Homo sapiens: one gene and its partners. The protein of the gene in region 4 purifies or fractionates together with the protein of the main gene of each other region. This does not show direct contact. Each region holds a gene or a part of one and is shown on either strand. Other genes may lie near its edges. The genes, in order: BTBD1, NCDN, CEP120 and C9orf78.

Evidence for each region.
Region 1: the proteins of C9orf78 (region 4) and BTBD1 purify together in Homo sapiens (affinity purification with mass spectrometry; 3 studies listed by BioGRID and IntAct, with this or other methods). This does not show direct contact.
Region 2: the proteins of C9orf78 (region 4) and NCDN purify together in Homo sapiens (affinity purification with mass spectrometry; 2 studies listed by BioGRID and IntAct, with this or other methods). This does not show direct contact.
Region 3: the proteins of C9orf78 (region 4) and CEP120 purify together in Homo sapiens (affinity purification with mass spectrometry; 4 studies listed by BioGRID and IntAct, with this or other methods). This does not show direct contact.

Annotation. Positions count from the first base shown.
Region 1 is NC_000015.10:83,064,248-83,071,814, reverse strand, and holds the start of BTBD1 (BTB/POZ domain-containing protein 1), read left to right. Parts: upstream 1-4,562; 5' UTR 4,563-4,663; coding exon 4,664-5,064; intron 5,065-7,567.
Region 2 is NC_000001.11:35,560,789-35,567,292, reverse strand, and holds the end of NCDN (neurochondrin), read right to left. Parts: coding exon 5,999-6,504; intron 4,902-5,998; coding exon 4,660-4,901; intron 4,092-4,659; coding exon 3,867-4,091; intron 3,527-3,866; coding exon 3,384-3,526; intron 2,067-3,383; coding exon 1,630-2,066; 3' UTR 514-1,629; downstream 1-513. UniProt on the Homo sapiens protein: Probably involved in signal transduction in the nervous system, via increasing cell surface localization of GRM5/mGluR5 and positively regulating its signaling. Required for the spatial learning process.
Region 3 is NC_000005.10:123,378,404-123,385,426, reverse strand, and holds part of CEP120 (centrosomal protein of 120 kDa), read left to right. Parts: intron 1-293; coding exon 294-476; intron 477-2,344; coding exon 2,345-2,441; intron 2,442-2,537; coding exon 2,538-2,690; intron 2,691-3,226; coding exon 3,227-3,316; intron 3,317-6,998; coding exon 6,999-7,023. UniProt on the Homo sapiens protein: Plays a role in the microtubule-dependent coupling of the nucleus and the centrosome.
Region 4 is NC_000009.12:129,832,258-129,840,206, forward strand, and holds the start of C9orf78 (splicing factor C9orf78), read right to left. Parts: upstream 3,019-7,949; 5' UTR 2,965-3,018; coding exon 2,882-2,964; intron 2,510-2,881; coding exon 2,450-2,509; intron 1,453-2,449; coding exon 1,401-1,452; intron 1,261-1,400; coding exon 1,190-1,260; intron 1-1,189. UniProt on the Homo sapiens protein: Plays a role in pre-mRNA splicing by promoting usage of the upstream 3'-splice site at alternative NAGNAG splice sites; these are sites featuring alternative acceptor motifs separated by only a few nucleotides. May also modulate exon inclusion events.

The DNA of each region.
Region 1 (7,567 bases), on a different chromosome or scaffold from region 4:
AGCTAATTTTTGTATTTTTAGTAGAGACGGGGTTTCACCATCGTGGTCAGGCTGGTCTTAAATGGCTGACCTCATGATCCACTTGCCTCAGCCTCCCAAAGTGCTGGGATTACAGGTATGAGCCACTGTGCCCGGCCATCTTTTATTCTTTTTTAAAAAATTCATTTATTTATATATTTTTTGAGATGGAGTTTCATTCTTGTTGCCCAGGCTGGAGTGTAATGGCACAGTCTCAGCTCACTACAACCTCCACCTCCCGGGGTCATGCAATTCTCCTGCCTCAGCCTCCCAAGTAGCTGAGATTATAGGCGCCCCCCACCACGCCTGGCTAATTTTTTTGTATTTTTAGTAGACATGGGGTTTCACCATGTTGGCTAGGCTGGTCTCAAACTCCTAACCTCAGGTGATCTGCCCACCTCGGTCTCCCAAAGTGCTGCAATTACAGGCATGAGCCACTGGGCCTGGCCAGCATCTGTTATTCTTTAATATTGACAAAAACTCCCTTGACCAAACTTTTTATTCAGGCTCCTTAGGACTTTTTTCTCAACTAGGCCTCTACCTTGGCCCATATCCTGTCTTTGGCCTGCCCAACCCAGTCTTAGAAAGAATCTCCCCACCCTTAACGCATCATCTTAGTAATTTTCCACCCATTGACCCCCCTTCACTTTGTTCATTGGCTATAAATGCCCAGCTGTTGATGTTGTTTTCAGAACTGTGCCTGATCTCTCTCTCCTGTTGCAATGCTTCCACTGCAATCATCTTGAATAAAATCTTTCTTACCATTTTAACTAGTGTCAGAATAATTTTTTTCTTTCTTCTTTTTTTTTTTTTGAGATGGAGTCTTGCTCTGTTGCCCAGGCTGGAGTGCAGCGGCACGATCTTGGCTCCCTGCAACCTCTGCCTCCCAGGTTCAAACGATTCTCCTGCCTCAGCCTCCCAAGTAGCTGGGATTACAGGCGTATGTCACCACACCCGGTTAATTTTTGTATTTTTAGTAGACATGGGGTTTCACCATGTTAGCCAGGCTGGTCTCAAACCCTAACCTCAGGTGATCTGCCTGCCTTGTCCTTCCAAAGTGCTGGGATTACAGGCGTGCGCCACTGCAACAGCCCAGAATAATTTTTTTCTTTAACAATGCCTTCAAACAGTTGTTTACACACACACACACACACACACACACACACACACACTCCAGCTTGTATAGTTGTTTTTGGTGGGAGGGTTAGACAAGTTGGTACATTATGGCTGAAACTGGAAGTCTACTTACTTCTATAACAAACATGTATTATTTTAAACATTTCCTTTAAAACAATAATAACATGTTTAACGAGCTCATCTGGAACCAGTCTTCCCTGAAGGTTATTATTTTGAAAGTTTTAATGTCCTGTATAGATAATTGAATTGTCCAGGTTTTCTAGACGAGTACATTCCTTTGATATTTTCAAAGCCACTAATAGAATTACTCATATTTTTAAACTCCACAATTATGTTTATATATCCTTTCTTATGTCCAATTCTATGTTTTTTAATCTCTTTCCTTTTAAACTAGCTAGTATAGTATACTATAGAGTGTGATCTATGAAAGGCCTGCATTAGAATACCTGGGATGACACTTAAAAGTAGTAAGTGAATTAATTTTCTGAATCATCAATGGATACTGAAATCAGTAGGTGAAAGCTTTTTGGGGAAACAGACTGGTCAAACAGTCTCAGAGCATCACCCTCATGGATTACTTATTACATAAGAATCATACACCTTCATAATGGAGGGATCTGACAGTCACAGCCTCACCAGGTCATCAAGCTTAGCATCACCAACATACGCTTTCTGAAGTGAGGCAATGAAGTACTTAACATCACCAGCATATTCTTGCCTAAAATGTTTAACCTGGAATCTAACCATGAATCATACAGAATCCACCAGACAAATCCAGATTGTGGAGCATTATACTCCACAATTCCCCGGACCTTCAAAGAAGTCAACACAGTCAATAATATGTGAACATTGATTTGATCCTGGATTGGAAAAAAAGTCATCTGTGAAAGATATTTTTGGCCAGGCACAGTGGCTCATGCCTGTAATCCCAGCACTTTGGGAGGCCAAGGTGGGCAGATCATAAGGTCAGTAGATTGAGACCATCCTGGCTAACACGGTGAAACCCCGTCTCTACTAATGACAGGTGAAGCCAACTGGACTTCTGGGTAGGGTGAGGACTTGAAGAACTTTTCTGTCTTACAAGTGGTTTGTAAAATGTGCCAGTCAGTGCTCTGTAAAAACACACCAATCAGCACTCTGTGGCTAGCTAGAGGTTTGTAAAATGGACCAATCAGCACTCTGTAAAGTGGACCAATCAGCACTCTGTAAAATGGACCAATCAGCATTCCGTAAAATGGACCAATCAGCACCCTGTAAAATAGACCAATCAGCACTCTGTAAAGTGCACCAATCAGCATTCTGTAAAATGGACCAATCAGCAGGACATGGGCGGGGACAAATAAGGAAGTAAAAGCTGACTCCACCCCCCCCACCCCCGCCGGCCCCTCCCCTCCTGCCCCCACGCCCAGAGACTGCAACCACCCGTTGGGGTTCCTTTCCATGACATAAGGGCTTTGTTCTTTTGCTCTTCAGAAGAAGTCTTTGGGTCCCTGCCATCTTAAGAGCTATAAAACTCATCAGGAAGGTCCACAGCTCCATTCTTGAAGTCAGCAAGACCACGAACCCACCAGAAGGAACGAACTCTGGACACACTAAAAATACAAAAAAAAAAAAAAATCAGCAGGCTTGGTGGCAGGTGCCTGTAGTCCCAGCTACTCGGGAGGCTGAGACAGGAGAATGGCGTGAACGTGGGAGGCAGAGCTTGCAGTGAGCGGAGATCATGCCACTGCCCTCCAGCCTGGGCAACAGAGCAAGACTCCGTCTCAAAAAAAAATTTTTTTAGAGACAAGTGGAGAAACAAATATTAACTGTACATTAAATATTATACATAGGACCAGGCCTGGTGGCTCATGCCTGTAATCCCAGCACTTTGGGAGGCCGAGGCGGGTAGATCACGAGGTCAGGACTTGGAGAGGAGCCTGGCCAATATGGTGAAACCCCGTCTCTACTAAAAATACAAATAATTAGCTGGATGTGGTGACACGCACCTGTAACCCCAGCTACTCGGGAGGCTGAGGAGGAGAATCGCTTGAGCCCGGAAGGCAGACTTCATGCCATTGCACTCCAGCTTTGGCAACAGAGCGAGACTCCGTCTCAAAAAAAAAAAAATCATATATAGATGATTTGATGATATGGTTAATTTTGTTAGGTGTGATAATGGTATCATTAGTAGCATGATGTCCCTTTGTCTTTAGGAATTGCCGGCTGGCAATGGGGAAGGGGTTGTGCATCCACTATTTCAGCCCCTACTACTTTAAGTCTCTTCCCAAGCACGTTCCTCTCCCAAAGAAGTTACCATTCTAAATGCCTAACAGCTGGAAGTCCCCTCTGGTGGTTTCACAAGTGGAGTGATTTTACAGGAGAAACCCAGGTTTGGGGTTTACTATTTACTTGACGGCATTTGTAATCTGTAAGGCTCTTCCTGCAAAGAACAGGTGTTTCCAACTATACGTGCCTGGTCAAGGACTATTTCTTGGGTTTTCTACGTTCTGCTTTTGACAGCTGACTTAACTCAGGGCCTGCCTCACTGAAGGGAGAAAAAGGAAGGCCTCGGTCCCCCAATCATGATGACCGGGTTGTAAATACTGCCTGGGAAGGGATAATACAGCCTTTTCCATTGTGTGTGTGTTTTAGTTTTTAATTTTTTAAATTTCAAGCTTAGGCAGTGGTTCAGTGCAAGGACTGAAAAGCGCTACAAGAGAAGGTGGGCAAGCACGAGGGGTTTCAAATACAGGGGTGGAAGCAGTAGAAGGAAATGTCTCTTAGGCCCAGAGGACGGAACCAAAGGGTCAATTAGAAGGGAAAGGGACCTGCGGACCTGGGGAGAGGTCACTGGGGTTCTAAGCCTTCCACCTCTGCTTCCGGAATTTCCACGGGTTTCGCGGCCTTCTGGAGCGGCGACTTGGCCACGCTTGGGGTACAGGGTTGTGGGAAGTCATGTCATCCCCTCCCTCACGTGTTCCCTTGGCCATACTTTCCTGCCCCTCCACTTCCAGGCAAAACACTCCTCGGGACAGGCCTTGGGACATGTCCCAGATACACAATGGGGGCGCTGGACTTGGTGATAAGGGGCCTGCAGGAAGAAAAAGGCAGCCGTGAGAGCCGCCTGCAGATCCACGATGCATCTTAAAATTACAAATTCTCAGGCCCTACCCCAGACCTACTGAGTCAGAATACCCAGGGCACTGAGCCAGGGGGTGGGTGCCCGTAGGCCCGGCAGCACCCAGCCTGCAGAAGCTCCACCTCCGGGAGCGCTGAGCTAGGACCAGCTCCCCACGCCCCTGCCCTGGGGCTGCCGGGAGTCCAGTCCTGTTACACCTCCCGCGGCCGCGCACAGCGGCAACCCGGGCGTGCGGGGGCGCGCGCGGTCAGGGAGGGGCCTGCGGAGGCGCGAGGCCCCCGGAAGCGCCTTTCCCGGAAGGCAGGGAGGCAGCGCCGGCCTCCGGAGGCGGCCTGGGCGATGGCGGCGGAGTTTTGTCCATAACGTGGGCAACCGCGCAGCTGGAGGATGGCCTCACTCGGGCCTGCCGCAGCTGGGGAGCAGGCGTCGGGGGCTGAGGCGGAGCCGGGCCCCGCGGGGCCGCCGCCGCCGCCCTCACCGTCCTCTCTGGGGCCCCTGCTCCCCCTGCAGCGGGAACCTCTCTACAACTGGCAGGCGACCAAGGCGTCGCTGAAGGAGCGCTTCGCCTTCCTCTTCAACTCGGAGCTGCTGAGCGATGTGCGCTTCGTACTGGGCAAGGGTCGCGGCGCCGCCGCCGCTGGGGGCCCGCAGCGCATCCCCGCCCACCGCTTCGTGCTGGCGGCCGGCAGCGCCGTCTTTGACGCCATGTTCAACGGCGGCATGGCCACCACGTCGGCCGAGATCGAGCTGCCGGACGTGGAGCCCGCAGCCTTCCTGGCGCTGCTGAGGTGAGCGGCAGCGCGGGCCGGGCCGGGCCGGGCCGGGCCGGGCCGGGCCGGGCTGGGAGATCCCCGGGGCCCGGCCTACCCGGACTCCCGGATGACCTTGGGCTGGGCTCTTCTGACCCGCCCGGGGCCTCAGTTTCCTCCCGAGCCGTTGATGCTCCGGAGGGTCGAAATCGAAATCTGTGAACCAGGACGGCTCAGTCGCCAACTAAACGTTAGTGTCTTCATTAGGCAAGCGTGCGTTTTACCATTGAAAGGCGTTTCGCATTCCAATTATGGATTGTCGCTCAGACTTCAGAATTAGACAAGTGGCAAGGATAGAGGGGCAGATCAGGTTGTCCTGATTGCCCATTTGCGAAGTTTTATGTTTTTGTTTGGGGGAAGAGAGTAGTTGAAAAATCTTGCAGGACTGATGTTTTGGGGTTATTGTCACCCCCTTCCCCCCGCTTTTTTTGAGACAAGGTCTTGCTCTGTTGCCCAGGCTGGAATGCTGTAGCGCGATCATGGCTCACTGCAGCCTCGACCTCTCCGGGCTCAGGTGATGCTCCGACCTCAGCCTCCCGAGTATTTGGGACTACAGGCACGCGCCACCACGCCCGGCTAATTTTTTTTATTTTTATTTTTGGTAGAGAGAGGGTTTCACTATGTTGCCCAGGCTGGTCTCGGACTCCTGGGGTCAAGCGATCCGTCCACCTCGGCCTCCCAAAGTGCTGGGATTACAGGCGTGAACCACCGCGCCTGGCCACTTTTTTGTTTTTGTTTTTGTTTTTCATTAACGTATTAGTTGTCAAGACCCAGGAAAGTAAATACGAAAACAGACAAGTGAGGCTTTACCTGCTTTGTGTTTCTACACACAAGGTCACATTTGCTTATAAATGAATCCCTCCCTTGATGTTAGAATTTGCTTGTTGGTTATTTGAGGATAGTAGATTGACATCTAATGAAAAGGTGATTGTTTGGCATTACTAGCTTTTAATCACAGCCATCCTGTTAGGGAGGCGTAAGAATTGTTTACCCCAATTTCACAAATGGGACTGAGGCCCAGAAGAGTCAAGTATCTTGCCCAAGGTAACAAACAGCTAACTCACACTGAAGACCATGTCTGTTTCATTATACTAAGATGGTTTTAAATAGCTGCCTGAGTAGAACGTGTTGTTATTAAAATGGCAGAGTCTTGGGTAGTACTGAAGCAAAAACAGGCAGGTCAGTGGGACAGAATTAGATACAAAGGTTCACAGTTGAATCAGAAAGATGAACAAGAAAATGAATGTAAAGTTCACACAACTAGAAACAAATAATAAGATTCCATTGACGAATGGATAAAGGACAGGATAGATAACTTAGAGAAAGAAAAAATACAACTAATTAACGAATGTTTTACCTGGCTGGTAATTAGGAAGTGCAAATTAAAAGACAGTGGTATTTTTTCCTTCCATTAATCCCACCAAAAAATTTAAAGGTAACATCTGAACAGCATTTTCTGACAAAGATGGTGGTAAAAACCCTTTTGGAAAACAGTTTGGTGCTATAGATTTTCTTTCCACACGTAAGAAGCATTCAAGTATTGCAAATTGCATACAAAAATATTTACAGCTTTATTTATAGTAGTGAGGAAGTAGTCAGCTGTAGGGAATGGTTAAACAGTGGTAGGTTCACTTGATGAGATATAATGCAGTCACTAAATATGACGGATAGCACTTGAAACTGCACCATGGTTACAACGTGAAAAGACATGGAACAAACATATACCTAGAGACCGGGATAAAAGGAAACATACCAAAATGCTAAGCAAAGTCACCTGGAGTAGTGAGATGAAAGTACCTTTTTTTCTTCTTTATTCTTTGTTTCTGATATTTTCTGTAATTTAGTTCAGTTACATTTATAAAGGGGGGGGACCTCAAAAGCTAAAATCCAGGTCATTTTAGTTTAAAGTTCACCAGGAGGATTGGGTATAGTTCATTTGGATTTTCTAGACTAGAAGTAGTTTTCAAAATGATCTGTGGGCCGTCTGCATTATAATCTTCTGGGGTGCTTATGAAATGTGTAGATCTCATCCTCATTATATACCGTAATATTTGGAGGTGAGACCTTGGTAGCATTTTTAACACTCTCCCTAAGTGATACTTATACAAACTAAATTTAAGAACCACAAATCTAAAACTATTTTGGGGCAATTTTTTACTTTGAAAAAATATTGAGATTACTAGGATAAGAATGTAGAGGAAAAATACATATTTTAATATTTTCACCGAAGCTGCTAATTAGTGCTTTCCCATCAATAGAAAGTAAGTTAATTTTAGAGTGTTTGAAATGTAGGACAGTGCAATTTTTTTTTTCACATTGTAAAACATTTTTTACATTTTTAAACTTTTTTTTCATTTTTACATTTTCAGTGTGTTTTATTTTCCTAGCATTGTATTTATCCTTCAGGTTCTGGTCATTGTTCTATTTTGAAATTGATATCTGGACTGATTTCTAAATTTAATTTTGGCTGGCTGTGTAACGT
Region 2 (6,504 bases), on a different chromosome or scaffold from region 4:
CTACATTTGGACTGCATGTTTTGTTGGATCAGTAGTTATTTAATTAAAGATAGTTACTGACATTCAAAAGTTGGGTTTCACATACAAATTAGGATTCCTGACTTCTTTAAAAATGGGAGGATATGGCAGGGCCACTTGGCAGCAACCCAGTGACATGGGGGCGGGGGTGCAGTGTTTCATCTGTACTTGAGAGCACCAGAGCCCCCACAAGGCCTGGCCACATCAACATGAGTTTGGCAATCTGCTGTACAAGTGAAAGATGTGGGCTGGGGAGTCGGATGGCCTGTGTGGAGTCCTGGCTCTGGCACTGACTAGCGGCAACACCTTGAGCCAATCACTTATCCATGCCAAAGTTGCTTTGTCTGTAAAATCAGAACCCTTCAGAGGATTCTTGGAAGGGCTGAATGAGGTCTCATGATGTGTTTAGCAGGGCATGTGTTCAGCACCTGGTAGCTGTGAACTGATGGAGCCTGGAAGGGAGAGAGCAGGTGCAGGGCAGACCACGCAGGAGGCTTCTCGTCACCAATGAACATTTATTGAGTGTCCACATGTGCACAGCTTTGAACTTGGCGATCACAGAACGCACTGGGGGAGGGAAGCAAGGGATCAAGAGTGTGTGTGTGTGTGTGTGTGTGTGTGTGTGTGTGTGTGTGTGTGTGTGTGGTCCCCCTGGGTTTATAAGAAAGGTAGTCCCTGCTGGAGCCGCCAGTCGCGTCTCTGCAGAGAGGAGTCATAGCAGGGGTGGGAGTTAAAGCCAGGCACCACGGTGGCAGTGGAGTGTAATCACTGGGGAAACATGCGGATTCTGGGGAAGTGTCCCTCCTGTTCCTGGCTCCAGCCAGGCCAGATGGCACCAGGGGGACAGGAATCAGATGCTCAGGTGTCCAAGCAGGGATAAGGACAGGCAAAATAAATAACCCCCCAACCCCCATCGTCACTCTGCTGCAACACGACACAAAGGTTTAAAGATCTGGGCCCAAAGACTCTGGGTCCCTTCAAGCAAGCTCAGGTGGAAGGAGGTTTCCCCACCCCCCACCAGGCCTGTCTGCCCCAGGTTGCCCTAGGATGGAGGCAGTTCAGACCCTGGGTCACTGAAGCTGATAGGAAGAACTGCGATATCAATGGCCTAAGCCTGCTGTCTGCCCAAGGGAGCCAAGGGCAAGAGCCAAAGGGCCAATTTAAAGGACGTGGACCTGGGGGGCCAGAGGAGGCACCACAGCCGAGGGGAGCCCACGCCCTGGCCGGCAGGGCACATGGGCTGAGGCAGTCTGCTCCTGCCAGCCCTGTCTTACCCTGGAGCCTCCCTCCTGCAGGGGAGCCAGACATCGGGCACAATGACACCTAGTGCCCCCCTCCCTGGGGGCTGCTCCAACCTTCCCCGGCCTGGCGGGGACAACCACGTTGATTTCCAAGCCGATCCCTGCCCCCATGGGGGCCTGAGGGGCGGAACGCAGTTCCTTACACTTGAGGGGTGGGCACCATGCCCTTGCCCTCAGAAAAGCCAGAAAGCTGGGGTGTTTTGGGGAGGAAGTCTGGGGAGGGGGGGGCCAGATTGGGGGCTTCAGGGAAGATGCCTCCTCCCTCCTTCCCTCTCTGCCCGCCCCTGGGTCTGTCCCCGGTGGACACCCCTCAGGGCTCTGACAGGCACTGCTCCAAGGCAGCCATGCGGTAGTGGCTGGCCGTCTCCTCGCCCGCCTGCAGCCTCATGGCCTCCCGGCACAGCCGGTTGGCCCGCGCCAGCTCCACCAGGACACCCTGATAGGCGGCCACCATCTCGGGCTTGACAGAGTTGGGGCTGACACTGCCTAGCAGCTGGAGCAGCTCCTGCGGCCAGCGGGAGCGCAGGGCAGCGGGGGCCAGCCAGGGCAGCAGAGGCACACAGCCGGTGAAGGCCTGCATGCCCAGGAACCAGAGCTCCTGCAGGTCGGCCCAGATGCCCTCATACTCAGGGGACAGGGCTAGCACTGCCTGGTCTGAGCCCGGGGTGGCCCGCGCCACGTGGGACTGTGATAGGAAGAGGATGGCAGCTGCGAAGAACCCTCGGGATGCTGGTGTTCCCTGAAGAGCTGCAAGGTAACGGAAGGAGTGGGGCATGAATCGGACAGGCCAGCTGCTGTGTCAGACCCTTCCCTAGTCCTCTGTGTAGACACATGCAGGAGCCAGGGCACAGCCTGGAATCAGACTGCCTGCGTTGAAACCCTGCCTTAGATGCTCACTGTGTGACCTTGGGTAATTAACTTTTCTGGGTCTGTTTCTTTACTTGTAAAATGGGCCAATAGTGCTCATCTTAGAAATTTGTTGTGAGAATTAAATGTGATCATCTTGGTACACTCAACCACCAAGACCTCTACCGGCACTGGAGGTGGGGGTGAGTCACAGGGTCAGATGGGAGAGAGAACCCCTCAGGGTTCTGGACACAGAGCTCAGACACAGGTTAAGGGAGTTGCACCATTTGATCCTTGGGCCAGAAGAGGGCGCCAGAGAGGAACATAAGCAAGTGACCCTGCTTTGCTTACTGGCTGTTCAAGGGGTGACCCTCACACTGCAGGTGCTCTCCAGGAAGCTGTCAACCTAACCTGGTGGTATTTGAGGGTGAGCCAGAACTGGGACCATGAAATTGGGGGCTGCAGAGATGCAGCCTGGGACTGAGAGTGCAGAGTGGGCTCCTGGTGTACAGGGATGTGCACCCCTTCCCATGACGGGGTACCCTGCTGGGAACCCCTCAAAAGGAACACAGAGGCAGTGGAAGGTACGGGCATGTTACGCCCTGTTCCCAGGCATCTGCTCAGCTCCTCCAACCTGACAGATGGGGCACAGGGAACAGGCAGGGACAGAGGGACCCAAGCAGACACCCACAGCCAAAGAGGGAGACACGGAGGGCTGCCAGGGGCTGGAGGGGACGTCCCTCCCCCTGCAAACAGCCAGAGTGAGGCAGAGCTAGGGAGAAGGTGTGCATAGAGGGACACCAAGTGCTGAAGGCTGTCACTGATGGGGGTGAGGTACCGAGCAGAGCAGAGAAAAACATCAATGGAAGGAAGTCAGGTTTCTGACTCAAGGCCTGGGTGGGGGCGGCTCCACCTTGAAAACACTGGATTCAGATTCCTCTGGCTGCCAGGGATTCCAGGTGCCTATGCCTGTGCCTGTGAGCAGGTCTGTACTTAACACCCACCAGACTTTGCCTTAAAAGTCTTCAGAAGAAAGAGAATGTTAGCATTTTGGGAAGAACGGTGGGGGTAGGGGATGGAGATACACTGCAAAGATTTCCTCTTGCTTAGAAAATGCTGCAAAACCATCTTCTAAAAATGGTGACTTTTGCCCCAAACACAGGAGGTCCACCCAGGTCTTCTGTCCTCACCCATCAGGACTGGATCCCCAGTTCTTACCTGGAGAGGTGCTAAGGAGCCGGGCCATGAGGAGCCCCAGGGTGGCCACATTAGCAGCCAGAAGCAGCCTTCCCTGTTGCTGCACTAGTGCTGGTAGCGACGTCATGAGGGTGTTCATTAGAGATGTGAAGCAGGCGTCACGCCTGGAAAAGAAAGGGGGGAAGGATGGAGGTAGGTGGGGGTCTAGTACAGCCAAATCAAGCCCTTGGCAAGAAATTAGGCAGTAGGGTGATTAACTTTGGGCCCCAAACATAGCATCTGGGGGGCAGAGATTGGAACAAGCAGACATGCTGAGACAGTACCTGGGGGTTCCAGCATGCCGAATCCTTGTGCGGGGCTGGCTATGTCTACTCTGAGACCCCCATGCTACCACTAACAAATCCATGGGCATGGGGGGCAAAGTAGGAGACTGAGAATTGAGGCAACTGGGCAGCCTCCTTTGCCTCCTCCGGCCTCCTCCCCCACCTCTCCCGAGCCCCTCACTTGATCAGCCCCGGTGCGGTGACCACGAGGTTGAGGAAGATGTGGCAGCAGGTCTGCAGGCCAATCTCCACGCTGTCAGGCAGCACCGAGGTGTCGTGGCCAGGGGATGTGAGTTCCCACTGCTGCAGGAAATACTTGCACAGAAGCGAGGGGGCCCCTTCCTTGATCAGGATCTCCCGGGGCCCATCTTCAACGGTCAGGTGGCACCAGCCAGGCAGGAGGAGCCTGGGGATGTGGAAGGGACAGACGTGTGTGGGATTGGGAGAGATGAAGGCACATAGATTCCCTTTTTAGGGCACCTTGCCTAAGAGAAATGGAAGTAGGGGAGAAGGACACATCCTCGCAGGTACCACAGAAAAAGTACAAGCTTCAGAGTCGCACAACCCAGGACCAAACTTGGGCTCTGCCACAAAGTGTGACTGTGGGCAAGTGACTTTAATCTCTATGAGCCTCAGTTTCCTAATCTTTCATATGTGAATGAGACTTCTGTTATATTTACCACGTGGACCAAATGAGATCATTTTGGTAAAGGGTATAGCAAAATACCTGGCTCGTAGTAGGTGCTCAATAAGTATAAGTTCTCTTTTAACTGAGAAATCTGGGGTTGGCAAGTGACACCTGGCAGCCGAGGAGTCCTGTGGGAACAAGCCCCCCAAAACAGAAATAACCCTAAGGGATATCTCATGGCCCAATCAGGAAGCCTGGCACAGCTCAGTTTGTGGGGAGGGGTGTCCTTGTGTTAACGCTTTTCGGTAGAATGATCTAGCTGGACAGACTGTAACTACAGACTCACCGGAGAGCGTCTCCTGGCCAGGTGGGCCCTGGGGTGGTGGGGGAGATGGCCAGGTTGGCCACCTGCTGGGAAAGGTCATTGGCCTCCTCGGCCTCCTCGTAGAGGGTCTTGGCATAGCGGACGAGGAAGGGCAGCAGCTGGCACACCTCCTTACGCAAGGATGAGGTCTCCTCGGCCAGCCAGGCACCCAGGATCCGCACCGAGGCAAACACAAAGGGCTCCTTCTGCTTCTCTGACCCCACCTGTTGCCACAGGACCCCCTTGAGATGGAGCAGGACCAGGGACCCTCCCTGCCTTGCCAGAGGCCAGCCAGCTAGAAATAATACAACTAGAAGGAAATTCTGGCCTGTGAGCCTTTCAAAGGCAGGCCCCAACCTTTATTCTGTCCCATGAACCCAGCACCTAGCATGTGGTAGGGACGCACACAAGGGACTGGCACAGAGTGAGCCAGGCCCTCCACACACGTCTGCTGAGTGAACTGGGCCTGAGTGAATTGAGTGACATGCCCCCGTACTCGCTGAGGCTCCAGTCACATCTCCCTAACTCCCTACCTCTGGAGTGTCTCAAGGCTAGAAGGAAATTCATAGGTCAAAAGCTAAGTTAAACACCCTTTACAGCAGCTCTGACCTGGGGTGGGAGGGCAGGTTCCTGGCTACTGTGTAACTGCTCCCAATGGTGGGAGTGAGGGGATGCTCTCTTTTGTGCTAAGTCAGAAAAAAGACATGAGCTTAGCGTGGTGCATGGAATATATGGCTGGTGAGCTCGGTGGCTGGAGCAGGCCATTAAAGAGACCAGAGTCATGACTGAATCCCTGTGGGACAGGACAGCTGGCCTCTCAGGCGGGGAGGCAGGAGGGGATGTAGGGGAGGCAGGCGAATTGATCTAGCCAGACCTCTATAGAGGCCAGGAACCAGGCAGCCCTGCTTCTCTTCCCTGCACCATTAGAAGTTCGGGTGTGTGCGTGTATAAAACAATGCTATGGAGTGAGCAGAACAGACTGCTTCAATCTTGTGTGCATGTGTTGGGGAGAGGTGTGTGGCGTGTAGTGTGTGTGTATTGGGGGGAGCGTTTGAGTGGGAGGTTACTGTGTTGTGTGTGTGTGCGTGTGTGTGTACTGTGATGTGAGTGCACATATGGTGTGTGGTATGGTGCTTGTGTGGAGGGAGGGAGAGAGAGGGAGGTTGGGCCGCACACTACTCCCTGGAGTGCTGGCTACAGTATCAGCTTGTGTGGACATGCAGCTTCGCTGTCTCCCCATTATTCTCCTCCCCCTTGCCTCCCAGCTCCAGCACTGGCTCCCCCCATACTGGGCCCCCTCTGTGGGTCACTGCACCCTCACCTGCAGCAGGTAGTGGATAACAGCCCCTATGGCCTCCTTCATGACGCTCACGAGCTGCACCTTCTGTGGCTCCTTAAGCAGTGACTGCTCACAGCGAGTGCATTCCTGGATCCCCAACTCCATGAGGGCATAGCAGGCGGTCACCACATCCTCTTTCACCTCCGTGCCCGTCTCCTCCAGTGCCAGCCGCACTTCCACGCACGCCAGATTCACCAGCAGGGCCAGGAACTTGCTCCCGGAGCTGCCCGCCGGGATCCAGTCGGAGCCGCAGGCGTGTGCCAGGCGGGCTGCCAGCTTCAGTGCAGGGTTGCGCTGCCAGGAGCTCAGCTTGCTTCCCAGGATGCGTGCCAGCCCGGCCTGCAGATCCCGGTAGCATTCAGGGGGCACGGTTGTCGGGGGCAAAAAGAGGGGCAGCAGCTGGCAGAGCTCAAACTTGCTGGCATCCTCAGCTTTCTGGAAATCCTCACTGAGGCCCCGCAACACGGCCAGCAGGTCGGGCTCCGCCT
Region 3 (7,023 bases), on a different chromosome or scaffold from region 4:
CTGTAGGCAGTTGGACAAAGGTAAGTATTTGTGTATCTAAACAGAAAAGATACAGTAAAAATATGATATAATTTTATGGGACCATCATTGTATGTGAGGTTCATCATTGATGGAAACATCATTTCATATTTGGTGCCTGTGAAATTTAGCATTCAGTCTAACAATTGTGTTAGACGACATTCCAGGTAACAAAAAACATCTTTGACTCCATTGAGGGAATTCAAAGAATTTAGTTCAGAAAAGACTTTAGGTCAGAGTTGATAGGTATGAACACATGTTTCTCTCTTCCTTAGGATTCCATTACTGGTTGAACTATGGCACAAGGATAAAATGAGTAAAGATTTACTTCTGGGAATTGCGAGAATCCAGCTTTCTAACATCTTGTCTTCAGAAAAAACTCGTTTTTTAGGTTCTAATGGTGAACAGTGTTGGCGTCAAACTTACAGTGAAAGTGTGCCTGTTATAGCAGCACAAGGGTAATGCATTTCACAGAATTGGTATTTGCTTTTCTTTTCAATTCATGGAATGATTTTGATTAGTCAGCCACCACTTCACCCTTCCATAACCTCTTTTTTCTGATCCACCACTTCACCCTTTCATAACCTCCTTTTTCTGATCTTCTCTGACCTGTGGCAGCTATACCCCACTTTGCCCTTTAGCTTTCTGATACTGATTTCACCTCACAGAAGTCAAGAGTCTGTGTTACCATGGTATTGTAATATTCAGATGGCTAATTATTTTCCTTCCTCTCTCTAGCTTGAGAATTTTAAATGCAGGATCTATTTTTTTATTTTGTAATTTGAGGTTAAACTTTATAATGTATTTTATATTATTTTGCACTGGGAATGGCTAAGACTGTTTTTCCACTTAAAATATTTTACTCCTACCCCAAATCAAAAGTCTGAGGACATTATAGATATTTGGCAGTCAGAGGCAGTTTTTAAAATAATTATTGGTTTTTTGCCCTGAACTTCATTGCCACAAAGAAAAACTTGCGTTTTTTTAACATATTTTAAATACAGTAAAATATTTGTTGAATTATCCTTTCAAAATTAACAATAAAAATTTAAAATTTAACTTAACATTATATATCATATGCCCTTTATCATTAAAGATAAGACTAAAAAAAAGAGAAACAAGGCTCAGTGAAATTTTAGCTCTAAAAGTATTGAAATGTCTTTCCTTATTCCTCACCATTCATGGCCATTTTGTTTCAACTCCTATTATTGAAGAATCTTTCTTAAAAATTAGCATTTTTTTGTCGTAAGTAGAAGATAATAAAATCACTAATAATTGAAGCTATTTTAATGCTGCCCGTTTGTTATGAATATTAACTTTTATTGCCATACTTTGTAGACAGAAAGTTTTAGGAGATTTACTTAAGTGAGAACCTTAGATACTCTCAGGAGTTTCTGTCAGATACAGTAGTGCTTCATTTAACTTTATTCATTTCTTCTGAAATCTGTGAGATTAGAAGAAGAAAATACAAAAGTTGGTTAATTAAGAGTTCTAATTGTGTGAGAACCATTCATTCAAGTTTTGTTTGACCAGAGTATATTTGATTTAGACAAAACCATGGTTTTGTATTACTAGCATTTTATTTTCTTCTAATATTTTATCTTGTTCTCATTTGGTTAATGACAAATGCTGCATGCAGTTGTATGATACAAAGAGGTGCTCATTATGCTCATACTAACATATAATTATCCTAGAAGCATTGCTTATGTGCCAATTAGGCCTAGAGGCATTGCTTATGTCTAGTAAAATATTTATGAGTATGTACATCCCAGGAAAAGTAGAAAAAAGAATTCAGAATAACCAATATAATCAAGAGTAGGGGAATTGTTAAGTATATTTTACTACATAAATTCATTTGTATATTTTACAGGCAGTAAAAAAAAAATCACATTTTTAAATTAATGTTATGATGTGAGAAAATGCCCCTGATGTAAATAGGAAAACAAGACAAAACTGTATGAAGTCAGCATGCATGTGTGCATGTATATCTATATATAAATAAAACAGGAGGGAAATAAACTACATATTAGCAATAATTACCTGTGGGCAGTAAGATTTTAAATTTCACCTTTATACCTTTTAAAGCTCTCATAGGGGTCATTTTGTAGTAAATGTATGCGTGTATTTAGCAGGGTGTTTGTGATGATCAATTTATATATATATGGAAGGTGTTGAAGCCTACAGAAGTTGCTGCAGTTTCAAAAACAATAGAGTTAGGAGCAGAAAATGTTGCTTACTTCCCATTGCTAAAGCACTGGGGAAATAAAAGGAAAAATAATATAAAGTATTTCTGTGAATTTTAAGGTATTTCTTATTTTATTTGTAGATCAAATAACAGGATAGCAGATCTTTCTTACACAGTGACTCTAGAAGATTATGGACTAGTAAAAATGCGTGAGATTTTTATCTCTGATTCATCTCAGGTAAATATAATTGAATGTTATCAAATTTTTTTTAAAAGGAATCTAATGTGCATATGTGTGTGAGTGTTTAAATGTACTTTTTGGTTCATCTCTTAGGGTGTATCTGCCGTACAGCAAAAGCCGTCTTCTCTTCCTCCAGCACCTTGTCCTTCAGAGATCCAGACAGAGCCTCGTGAAACGTTAGAATACAAAGCAGCACTTGAGCTAGAAATGTGGAAGGAGATGCAAGAAGATATATTTGAAAATCAGGTTACTTTTTAAATGTTACTTTAAAAAATCTGCTTTGTCTGCTCTGTATATTTTTCCTTCTCCGTAGCAAGGTTTAATCTCTATGTTCTGTAGGTACCTTATCTAACTTCTTTGAATGTCAACAATGCTTTACTTAAAAAAATTTGAGAATCAAAAAATACCTGAAATGTGGCACCTTGGCAGAAGCCACTCAGAATTCTGTAAACTTTGTTCATGATTATTGGGTAAAATTGGGAAGTTACTCTTTAAATTTCATGTCCTCATTTGGCATGCCCTCCTGGAACCTTGCATCATTAGTCTCCAAACAAGAGTTAGAAAGCACAACCCACTGTTAGTTTTATAGTTTCCTGAAGTGAACTCAAATGGGCATTATTTGCCTCAGGCATCCTCCTTTTTTTTTTTTTTTTTTTTAGAATAAAAAAGAATGCCTGAAAAAATCATATTAGTGATCAGCATCGGTTATTTAACTGACAACTGATTCATTTATTTGACATATTTGGGGTTTTTTGGCGACTTTATTTTTCTTCCTTTTGTAGCTGAAGCAGAAAGAACTGGCTCATATGCAGGCTCTTGCAGAGGAATGGAAGAAAAGGGACCGAGAAAGAGAATCACTAGTAAAGAAAAAGGTAATAACTTGTGTAAAAGTGAGGAAGAGAAGGAAGAATATTAATGATAATATCTTGTATTTGCGTTAAAGACAGTCTCTGGAAGGAATAACTAATTTTAGTGGTGATATGTTGGCATGGAAGAAGTGAGTGGTGGCTCTGGATAGAGAAGGGAGGCGTTTCACTGTAAAGTATTTTGTGCTTTTGGAATATGCAAATGTATTACCTATTCAAAAAATATATAATATAGGCCAGGTATGGTTGCTCACACCTGTAATCCCAGCACTGAGGGAGGATTGCTTGAGGCCAGGAGGTTGAGACCAGCCTGGACAACATAGTGAGACCCCCATCTCTTAAAAAAAAATATGTGTGTGTGTATATGAATATACAAAAATGAATAGAGAAAAACCCTGCTGATGTATAAAAAAGAAATAAAAGCACATTTCAATATATATAAAACTACATATTATAATCTGTAAGTTAATAGAATGCCTCAAACGTTTAAGCTATTTTTAAGAATTATGAAATAAATTACATTTTTAAAAATGATAACATGAGACCATCTGATTTTATTCCTGAAGCAAAAGCTTAATATTTATCCATTTACACTGAAGTTATTAAATAAAACAACCCTAACAGACTTTCTTCAAATATTCTATTAATAATTTTAGGACTTTAGAAATACTCTTATTAGTGGTTAATCAGTATTCAGCTTCAGATTTGAGGGGATGGCTCTACAGGGCTCCAGTGCTCCTTCTCTCTATAACCCCCTCCTCTCATCAACTCTAGTTGCCTCAGCCTCTCTGGTCTCCATTCCGTTTTCTCAGCTCAGCAAGATTGCTAGTGTCTGTTTGGGTTCCCCTTCCTTGAGCTACTACAGTCTTCAGGCAGTAAGCTAGATATATTGTAGTGGTTGCCTCATTTATTTCTCACCTTTTAGGGATCATTGTCCTGTGCTGCCTGTTGCCCAATGTCTAAAAACAGTTGTTTCATAAATGTTGTTTAAGTTGTGTTTATAAAGGAGGGCCATTTGTCTTTTATGGGTGGAAACAGAAGTACACAGGCCTTTGATTTTAAAATAACCAAATCAGCTTTTTCTAACTTAATTCTCACCATTAAAAACTTGAATAACCAGTGAACTTTTAAAAAAGCTGAAAGACAAAAATAAGAGTATTTCAAAGTCTCTATTCTTTAGAAACGTTCAGATAACCAAAATTACAATAATTAGAAGCCCTGACATACATTTTAACATTATGCGAGTTATCCTGTTATTAAGTGAGTTTCATATTAAGTAATATTTACAGACCTCACCTATTAGATATTCATTGAATCTGGGGGAGCTGGAAAATACCATTTTAATTTTTAAAATTTTTAACCTAGCCTTTAAGACAAGATGAGTTTATCCTTGAATCATTTCTCTTCATTGTGTTGAAGAGTATTTTAGTATTGAGGTCTGCAAAATTCAAATCGGGAAATACTTGAAAAGTTAATAAAATTACTAGAACCGTGACAAATTCACTTTGTGCCATAATTAAACTTTCTGTGAAAACTCACCAAGTAATTTTTGGTTTGTTGTCATTTTGGTAATAATGATCTTTTCAGCTAAAATTTGTAATTGGTTTCCATTTATACACTTCTACCCTTTCAGCCTGAAATGATGAGTTCCTGGCTAGTTAATAACTCCAGTCAGAAAACAATATGATGCCTACATAATAAGTGTTTGTGCTGTTTATTCAAATTAGTCATATGATAAAGGTAGATCTGAGATTGAGATTTGCCATTTTCTTTCAACCTAAGTGCATTTTTGAGACCAAATACTTTAATTCATTTGTCTTAAAGTATCCTGTCTTGCATGGGATCAGTTTTTCTTTTAAATTTTATCAACCACTACAAAATCAAGTCAGTAGTGAGAAAAAAAAGTTGTTTTTCAGTATGATGAAATATTTTAAAGCTAAATACCCTGAGACTCTCACTATAGTATTTTTTAAATGTCAATTATATGTGAGCCTTTTCGTTTATTTACCTGATTTGTCTTAAAAAACGATGTATAACTTCTTTCACACTTTGAAAATTTACCTGAAGGAGTAGATATATACGTGGTTCTTGTTCTGCCCTCTGGAGCAACTGAGATATACTCTGTCTTACATATGACTGCCTGTCAGATAGCTGAAGATAGTCATTACCCACAGAGAAGGAAGACATCAGTTCTACATAAGGAAGTGTTCTGTAGATAAGATCATGCTTTCACTTTGGTGAAGATTAGTGGATATTGCCAGGTAGACTCAAAGGGTATTCCGGACACAGCCCCTTGAGGAAAAGGCAAAGAAGTTTGAAATACACTCTGCATTAAGAAAATTATATGTAGTTTGATGTTGGAAGAGGGGAGGAAAGAGTGTGCCTCAAGAAATAAGGTAAGAGAGGTTGATACCCTGGAGAATAAATGATCTCGTAAATCCATTATGTAGAGTTTAGACTAGATACTGTAGGCTTTTCTTAGCCAGGCCTTCCTGAGAGAATGAAGCCCTTAATACCCTAAGTGATCCATTATTGGTAATAAATTAACTTTATCCTATGCATCTAAAATGGTAGTTATGTACCATTTTAGGAGAGGATGGAGAAAATAATTAAATCATTTTCTGTGTTTTGTGGTTCAGATGATAAACCCTGGTTGAGAACGGTAGAAATATCAGAAATTTTTTAAATGAAGATTTTTATATAAAATAATTAGGTTTTCATTCTATAACAATAATTCTGATGGAGGTACAGTGGCTAGAATAGAGGAATGTGAAACTAAAGTCCAGGAGACCAGGAAAGCAATATGTATAAAAAACGAAAGCCAAAAACTAATAGTAGTGAAAGGTTATGGAGAAAAGATGGGTGGTAAAGAGATGATTTTAAGGAGGTTTAGGACCTCAAGCGCTAAGACGTCCTCACGGCTGCTCACAATCCTACTGCTTTCCCTAGTCAATTCATTTTCTCACTCGCCAGAACAGTTAGTTTTTGTCTTAACAAACAATCCTTCCTCATCCTTACCCGGTTTATCTCTGTCTTTGAAACACTTCCTCTATTTGGCTTCTTTGACTATATTTTTTTTTTGGACTACACTTTTCTACTGTTGTGTTCCGCTGTCTTCACTGGTCTCTCTTTCCTAATTTTCATGCTAGATTCTCCTCATGTTGGCTTTATTGGCTTGTCCCACAGCCCAGTCCTCAAATACCATCCTTTCTTCTCTCTGTATACTCACTCCTTGGATGATGTCATTCACTCTCTTGGCATTATATACACCAAGACACCCACCACACGCACCCCCATCCCTGACTTCTTCCCTGGACTCCACACTTGGCTATTTAGTTGCTTACACTACATATGCGTTTCAAATTTAGCAGTCTTTTGTTTCCATCCTCTGTAAATTTAGATTAAGTCTAACATACTAGAGGATGTGGAAATCATAATATGTGAATAACAGTTAAAATTTGTGTTTATCTTGGAGAAGAAAAAAGACCAAGAGGAGGAAATATGACCATCACCAGTCTCAAATTCATAAAAGCACATTTTTTTCTTTGAATTGGCGGATGTAATTTGTGACTTTCCTATTCTTAGGTCCTCTGTTTCAGTGAAATGATGTGTATTTTTGAATTTGTGTGTGTTTTAAGTTTGGGAGAAGGTAGGTAACTTTTTTTTTTTTTTTTTTACTATATTTTAGGTGGCTGAATATACTATTCTAGAAG
Region 4 (7,949 bases):
GATAGTGAAGTCCCTTACATAAAATAGTATAATATCTGCATCTAACCTACACACACACTACCATCTGCTTTAAATCATCTCTAGATTACTTATAATACCAAATACAATGTAAATGCTATATAGTTGTCACAAAAGTACACAGTAAACTTTTATTTTTTTAATTTTTGAATTATTTGAATGTTTGATTTATTAATTTATTGAGACGGAGTCTCACTCTGTCACCCAGGCTGAAGTGCAGTGGCGCAATCTCAGCTCACTGCAACCTCTGCCTCCCGAGTTCAAGCAATTCTCCTGCCTCACCCTCCTGAGTAGCTGGGATTACGGGTGCCCACCACAATGCCCGGCTAACTTTTGTATTTTTAATAGCGACAGTGTTTCACCATGTTGGTCAGGCTGGTCTCGAACTCCTGACCTCAGGTAATCCGCCTGCCTCAGCCTCCTGAAGTGCTGGCATTACAGGCATGAGCCACCGCAGCTGGCCTGAATTTATTATTTTTGTTAATTGTTTTTATATGAAACTTCCCCATAGGTTCACTTATTTTATTTTTTTGAGACAGGGTCTTTCTCTGTCACCCAGGCTGGAGTGCAGTGGTGTGATCGCGGCTCACTCTAGCCTCAACCTCCCTGACTCAAGTGATTCTCCCACTTTAATTTCCTGAATAGCTGGGACTACAGGCACATGCCACCACACCCAGATATATACACACACATATATATATGCGTGTGTGTATATATATATATGTGTGTGTGTGTGTGTGTATATGTGTATATACATGTGTGTATATACATATGTGTATATGTGTGTACATATGTGTGTGTGTGTGTGTGTGTGTATACATACACACTTTTTTTTTTTTTTGTAGAGACAGGGGTCTCACTATGTTGCCCAGGCTGGTCTTAAACTCCTGGACTCAAGCTAACCTCAGCCTCCCAAAGTGTTGGGATTATAGGCATGAGTCATCACGCCTACAATACACTCTTACAAAAGGAGTCTACCAACTTGGCTCTAAGTTAACTTTTAAAGACTTTTTGCTTTCTTTGTTTTTAAATAACACACCCTTTGCAAAGCACAAAACCTGCTTCAAGATGTCCTACTAATGCTGCTGCTACAGGCCCCAGCTCTCTGAGGGAACCTAGACCCAGGCAGCCGCTAAAGGTGAATTTGCATCTAAGCTTGTCCTGAACTTACTTATCTTTGCCCCTTTCCTTCAGTTTCTTCATATCCACCATACCACCTGTCTTCATCTGAAAGGGATCATCCTGCAGAAAGCAAACACAGTTAAGAGGAAGCATCTAAATACATGGTAGTGGAATTTTTTTTTTTGTGAAGCACGCTCACTCACTGAAGAGCACTGCAGGGAGGGCTGCCATAACTACTCAGGGAAGACCCCATAACTTACCACTAGAGTGGTCTCCTCTTGTACCTTCTCTCCCACCAGCAAGGCCACAGCACTGAGCAAAACCAAAAAAAAAAGAGAGGGGGAGAGAGAGAAATGGCATAATTCAGAGATAAGGAGGAACCCTCTCAGGTATGCGGATTGCAACATTAGTGCAAGGGTGGGATTTGAGGGGTGGGTAGGCAAGCCGGCTGGAAAAGCCTATAAGCATAAGACAGGGCTCAACGAGCACCGCAGATGCTGGAAGAAGGGTGCGCTGGTGGTGAAGTGGTACACTTTGCCACTTTCCTGTAAAGCCATTTGGCATTATCTTGGCCTGGAAATCTCATTTCTAAGATATTCTCATCATGGAAAGTGCAGCTAAAGATAAATTTAAGAGAATATCCACTGCAGCCTTATTTGATAGTAAAAATTTACAAAATCACCTACATGTCCCAAAATAGGGGATTTGTTAACAAATTACAATACACACATCTGGTGGAATATTATGCAGCCATTAAGGCTTTCTGAAAAATATTCCACAATATGGGTGAATGCCCACAATGTCATAATGAGTTGAAAAGAACAGGGAATAAAAGTACATAGAAAGTTGTTCACAATCTGAGAGAGAGAGACGAAAAAAAACAGATTGGAAAGAGTATTCAATATTAATACCAGTGCATTCTTGGGTGGCTCTGCAAGGAAAAAAAATGTTAACACTGATCATTTCCGGATGGGAGAATTATGGGTGCTTTTTATCGTCTTGACTATACTTTTCTAAATTATACAAACTCTTAACGATCGATATGCATTTCACAATTAATTGGTTTTAATAAAAAACGCGAGTTAGTGATCTGTTTCTGTATCTCTGGAGCACACCCCGAGACGACACAGCTCAGGGCATGTCCTGGTTAAACATTTGCAAAGAACGCTGTTCTCCAAGTTGGGCAGTGGAAGGTGTACAGTGTGTCAAGAGAAAAATCTACGTCTGAGGAGATATTTGTGACAGCGACCCGGACGCGGATGTGTCTGTCGTCCCCGCCGCCTCCTCCTCCTCCCCGCGTGGTACCCACCTCACCCCGTTGGGCCTCTTCCTCAAGTTCTGTACCTCTCTGGTCTCTTCCAGTTTTAATCTTTAAAAAGAAGAAGAAGCAGCAATGCATAAGCTGAGTGATTCCCCGCGGAATCCAAAGCTAACAGAGCCAATAAGGCACCTTCGAGGGCATCCCAGCCCAGCTACTGAGCCACCAGCACAGTGGTCCAGAGGACGACCTTGTGCCTAGACCCACCGGGAGTCAGAGCCACTGCGCATCCCGGAGGCATCTCTCTCAACCGTTCGAGCTTGGGGCGGTGGCCTCACCCCTTGAGCCTCAATTTCTGCGTCCGCAGAAGGAACCACCACCCGAGCTCACAGTTAACAATGTCAGCGAAGCGCCGAGCCGGTGGTGAGTCCCCCAAACAAGTCTATCTTTACCAAGCCTATGGGAGCCCCGCCCCAAACGCACCGAACCTCCTCTGAGTCCTGCTCATCTTCCTCTGACTCCGAGTCGCCCCGGCGGCGACGGAAAATCTTCCGGACGACCGGCATGGTGACAACGGCCGAGTTGTACAGCCGCCGCGCCTCTGCGCAGCGGCCCAGGCTGCTTCCGGCGCGCGGCAGAGCGGTCAGAGCGCCTGCCCCGTCTGGCCCCGCCCCCGGCACGCACAGTCCGCGTGGCCACGCCCCCTCTCCTGGCGTCAGCCTCTTCCGATTGGACGGCAGAGGGAAGGAGGTGGGGCGTCGCCAGACGGCCCCACAACCCTGCGCGTCGCCTCAGAGGGGGCGCGCTTGACTGACAGGCGGCGGCGGCGCAGTTGCGAGTGCAGGTGAGTTCCGGGCCGCCACCGGCTGCTTCTGTGGGCCGGGCCTCTGAGCATTGGCGACCCCAGCCCGGCTCCGGGCTGACAGGGCCTGGCTTCGCCAGGTACGCCAGACGCAGCGGCCCGGTGAGCGGAGCCCGGGACCCCCCCGGCCGCCGCCGCCCCTCTCCCCTCCTCCGGTCGGCGCCCAGGGGGGCCTCTGGGCCCCAGCACCACCCCACTCTGAGCTCCCTGGGGGCTCGTGGCTTCTCCAGAACCGGGGCCGCCCCCCTCTCATTTCTGCCGGGGCCTGACCTAGCGTTGAAAGCATCCGCGTGGCGTCTCGCGTCTCGGGCGCTGACTTTTCTTTCCTCGGGCTCTGAGCCCTGACGTGCGTTTTTTTCTTTCGGAACAAAAGATGACCACTTCTCTGCGGTGCTGACTTAGAGTCCCAGCGCCGACTGCCTCACAAATAATGGCCCCCAGCTTCTCCGCGAGGAGAGGCGCGTCTGATGTTTTGAAGCCACGCAAGAGGGTTTGAGCCGGGGGACTCCTCCTCGGTGCTTGCCGGCCACCCCCCTGGACCTTCACGGGTCTGGTTTTCCTCCTTCGGCAGGTCTGTCGCTCTACCCTCTGCCCCTTCCACCCCGAAGATGCTGTGAGGATAAAGTTTATTTGAAAAACTGGTATCAGCAAACGCTTAGGAAATACCTAAATGCATAAATAATGGCTTCTAGGACTTTTAAGAACCCCTTAAGTAACAGTAGTTTTCCTTTTCTCAGTGTCATCCCTTACTTTGAGAACTACCTCTTATTAAGCAGTTACTATGTGGCAGGCCCTGGGCAAAGCATCATCTCATTGAATTCTCCCAGCAATCCTTTGAGGTAGATTGTTTTTCGTTTTACAAATGAGAATGCGGAGTCTCCGAGGGGCAGTGCACGCCTCAAGTTACCCAGCTAGGAGGTGGAACAGGAATTGGTTGCAGGTCAGTCTCTGCCGCACGGTTTGCACAGGGCCTGGCACGGTAGGAGTGCAGTAGATGTTTGCTGCTGCTGCAGCTGCTGTTACATCTCATTGGCTAGGGGGAGGGGCCGATGGGGGCTGTCTGGGGTTCCCCTTTCTGGAAGACCATTCCGAAGCAGGGCAGCATTTCTAGAATGCCTTACGTTTTCTCTGGAACAGTCTCCACTGAGATTGTTCTTCTCTTCCTTGGGCTGGAAAAAATAGTAGACTCGGGACTTCTTGCACCAGCGTTTTATCTTTGGTCAAAAGCCATATATTAAAGTCTCAAAGTCTTGCCCTCTGCAGACTGGTTCAGCCAAACCCAGATGCACGTGCACTCACTGGATACGGAGTCCCTGTCAGATGATGGAGAGGCTCCTTGGGAATTGCTGCAGGAGTCCAGGGGGTCAACGTCTGCAGCTCTCACGCTCTCAGAGGTGGCTCTGAATCTGCCCATCAAGCAGCCCATCCACCAGGGGGTACTGGACACTACTAAGGAAAGGGCAAGAAGGCCAGGGGCATTTCTGGACCCTCCTCCTCAGCTGAAGTCCCAGGGTACAGATGAGCTGCTCCCACCCTTGCTCCATGAGGCCAGAGGACCCAGTGATAACCACCACCTGTGCTGTGGCAGATCTAATTGAGTGCTCTTTAGCAAAAGGAATGCTGAAAAAGTGGCAGCTATGAATCTGGCAGTAAGTGGCTTTGCCAAGAGACTGCAGCCCAAGTCTCACTGGGCCCTTTTAAGCGTAGGATGAGACTGTCTCTCAAAAGGACCCTCCGAGAAATACAGGTTCTATGCAGTTCAAAGATGAATCCAAGGTCTTAGTCTTGTTTGGGAGTTCAGTTGTTTTAAGAAAATGTACAGATTCAACCTAGGTTTTGGTTGGTTTCCTAGCTCCTTTCTGGAGCCAGATGAAATGTTGGCTTGTTTCAGGGTTCAGGGAGCATTCATGTCCGATTGGATTTGGGATCCAGCAACGTGATACAGTTCACAGCCCAGCTATAGTCGGCATCCAATAAATGTATTTATTGGATCAATGTATTCAACAGATTCTTAGCATTTACTATATGAGCAGGCACTGTTCTAAGTGCTTGAAATAAGTCAGCAAAAGAGACAAAAGATCCCTGATTAGTTGAGTGTATGTTCTCACAGTAAAGTATGTAAAGTGTGTTAGAAGATGGTAAGTGCTGTGGAAAAGAAACAAATAGAGCAAAACAAGGGAATCACCTCCGGGAGGGTGGCAAGGTTGAGTTGCAAATTAAAATTAGCGCATTCTGGTTTGGGATTTGGTTGGAAACATGACAGATAAAGCAGTGGATTGAATGATAGGCCTTGGGTTCCAGTCACTGCCTGGTGGTTTTAGGGGTCTGTAAGCTTGAACTTTATTTTACAAAAGCTTTTATTTAGAGTGTACACCCTGAACTCAAGTCCTGATTGTGGGGTATTTAACAGTGATGAAAGAGCCAGGCTGTTCTTAGCCTTTTACCTTAGCAAGACAAACAGTATCCAACTGGTTCTCATTAGCATGAAGGAGGAAACTTGGAGAAGCCATGCACGTTGACAACAATTTTTTTTTTTTTTTTTGAGACGGAGTCTCACTCAGTTGCCTAGGCTGGAGTGCAGTGGTGCGATCTTGGCTCACTCCAACCTCCGCCTCCCAGGTTCAAGTGATTCTCCTGCCTCAGACTCCTGAGTAGCTGGGATTACAGGCGCCCACCACCACACCTGGCTAATTTATGTATTTTTAGTAGAGACGGGGTTTCACCATGTTGGCCAGGCTGGTCTCAAATTCCTAACCTTGAGTGATCCGCCCGCCTCAGCCTCCCAAAGTGCTGGGATTACAGGTGTGAGCCACTGTGCCCGGCTAACAACAAATATTTAAAGGCAGGAAAGTGGCAGTGCTCTTTGGCTCCAGTGAGCAGTCATGGCTCAATAAATAGAAATTTCAGGAGAGCCAATTTCCATTGATTATAAAGACTTAGGTTTGTAGCAACTAGAGCTGCCCTCTGGGAAAAGGGTGATTTTATCATCAACGACTGCTCAAACTGGGTTTGGAGAACAACCCAGTATGGCTTTTACAGAGCAGAGTTGTGCCTTAAGGGGAAGATGCATGGTTTCTAAACCCCTTTAAACTCTGAGATTGCATGGGGGAAGGCAGCTGCAGATCATGCTGCCTGAAAAGAGAGGATCTGATTTCAGGCCCCAGAAATCATGATTTTCCTAGTTCTTAGTTTCCGCATCTCTAATGTGAGTTTTTTCTAAGGTTTCTAGTCTGAGCTTCGAGACTGAGTTTCTGCTCATGCTTACTCACCACTGAGTGTGAGGCTTTTAATGACCTGGGCCAGTGACTGGCTGCAGCCTAGGGTAGCCCCAAACCCACGCCTTCTCCAATTAAGGGACTCTTCCGGACAGAGCTCAGAGCAAAGGGTAGTAGCAGGCTTTGAGCTGCAGGGAGATACTGTCATATCCTAGACTGAAGGAAGTTAAGCTGAGCAGAAAAATGCTCTGAAGAATGACTCAGAAGAGGCTCTTGTGAGGAAGCTTCCTTGGAGTACGCGTGTTTGGATTTGGGGAGGTGAAGGTCGTCCCCATGCCAGGCTGGCCGGGGCTGTTTGTGACATCGTGGAGCTGAGTGTTCAGAGCATGGGCTTCAGGGCAGGTAGTCGTGGGTTCGAATTTTGGTTCTGCAGCTCAGTAGCTGTGTGACCTTAGCCAGTTATTCCACTTCTCTGAGCCTCGGTGTCTCCATTGTTAGTGATGGAGATGGATTTAGTTTGGAACCTTGCCACCTCCCAGGGTGGTTGTGAGGGTCCAGTGAGGTCACATGTGAGAACACCAGACTAAGATGTTAGTGTCAGTTCCAATATTCAGGGCCGTGGGGCAGGGGGAAGGGCGATGAGGAGACACAGAAGTGTGTGGGCAGCAGAGACTGTGGAAGTGTGGAGGCATGGGGAGGCCTGAGGGCTCTGCTTCGAGAGTCAGAGGATGGTGGCCTCCGAGTGAGGACTGGGTTAAGGGAAGGGGTGGGTGTGTCTGGGACTTAGGGAGAATGCTGTTGTGTGGAGGTAGAGTAAAGACAGCAGGAGGGAGAGAAAGGGTGTGCGAGGGCCAGAGGGGACTGTGGAGGGGGTGGGCACACACCCTGTGCGGGGCTGGGGGTGTGAGATGGCTAATGTGGTTGGGGTCAGCGTGGGCAGGGCTGTGGGCATCGTTGTGTGGGTGGGAGGCCCAGAAGTGTCGCCCTCCCCATCCTGAGGGACTGGTTCCTCGCTGGGAGGAGGAGGATGTAGCCAGAACCTCTGGGAAAACAATGAGTAACAGGCACCAGAGGCAGCCAGGTCCAGATGTGCTGCCTACCTAGGACCACAGGCTGTGCTGGCTGGTCCCTCCCCTGCCCTTCCTCAGGCCTTGCCCCTCCACTTTGCCCCTGTGGGTGGAGTGGCACTTTCCCCCACCCTGGAGGCCCAGGGAAGGAAAGCTGCCTTTATGAGCCTGAAGCATCTTGGAGGTCTCCTGGGGCCAGCAATGGTGGGCTCTTTGCCAAAAGTCTCAGGCCTTCCTCCCCCCATCCTGTGCTCTCCTGCCCCAAGAGAGGAGGCTCTGGTGGGCCGGGAGGGCGGGGCACACGCTGCACCTTGCTGACTTGTTGTACAGTAGGTCCTACTCTGCGTGGCTGCACCTGGAAGCACGTTCTTTCAGCTGCACAGGTGTCTTTCCCTTTTGGCCTTTAT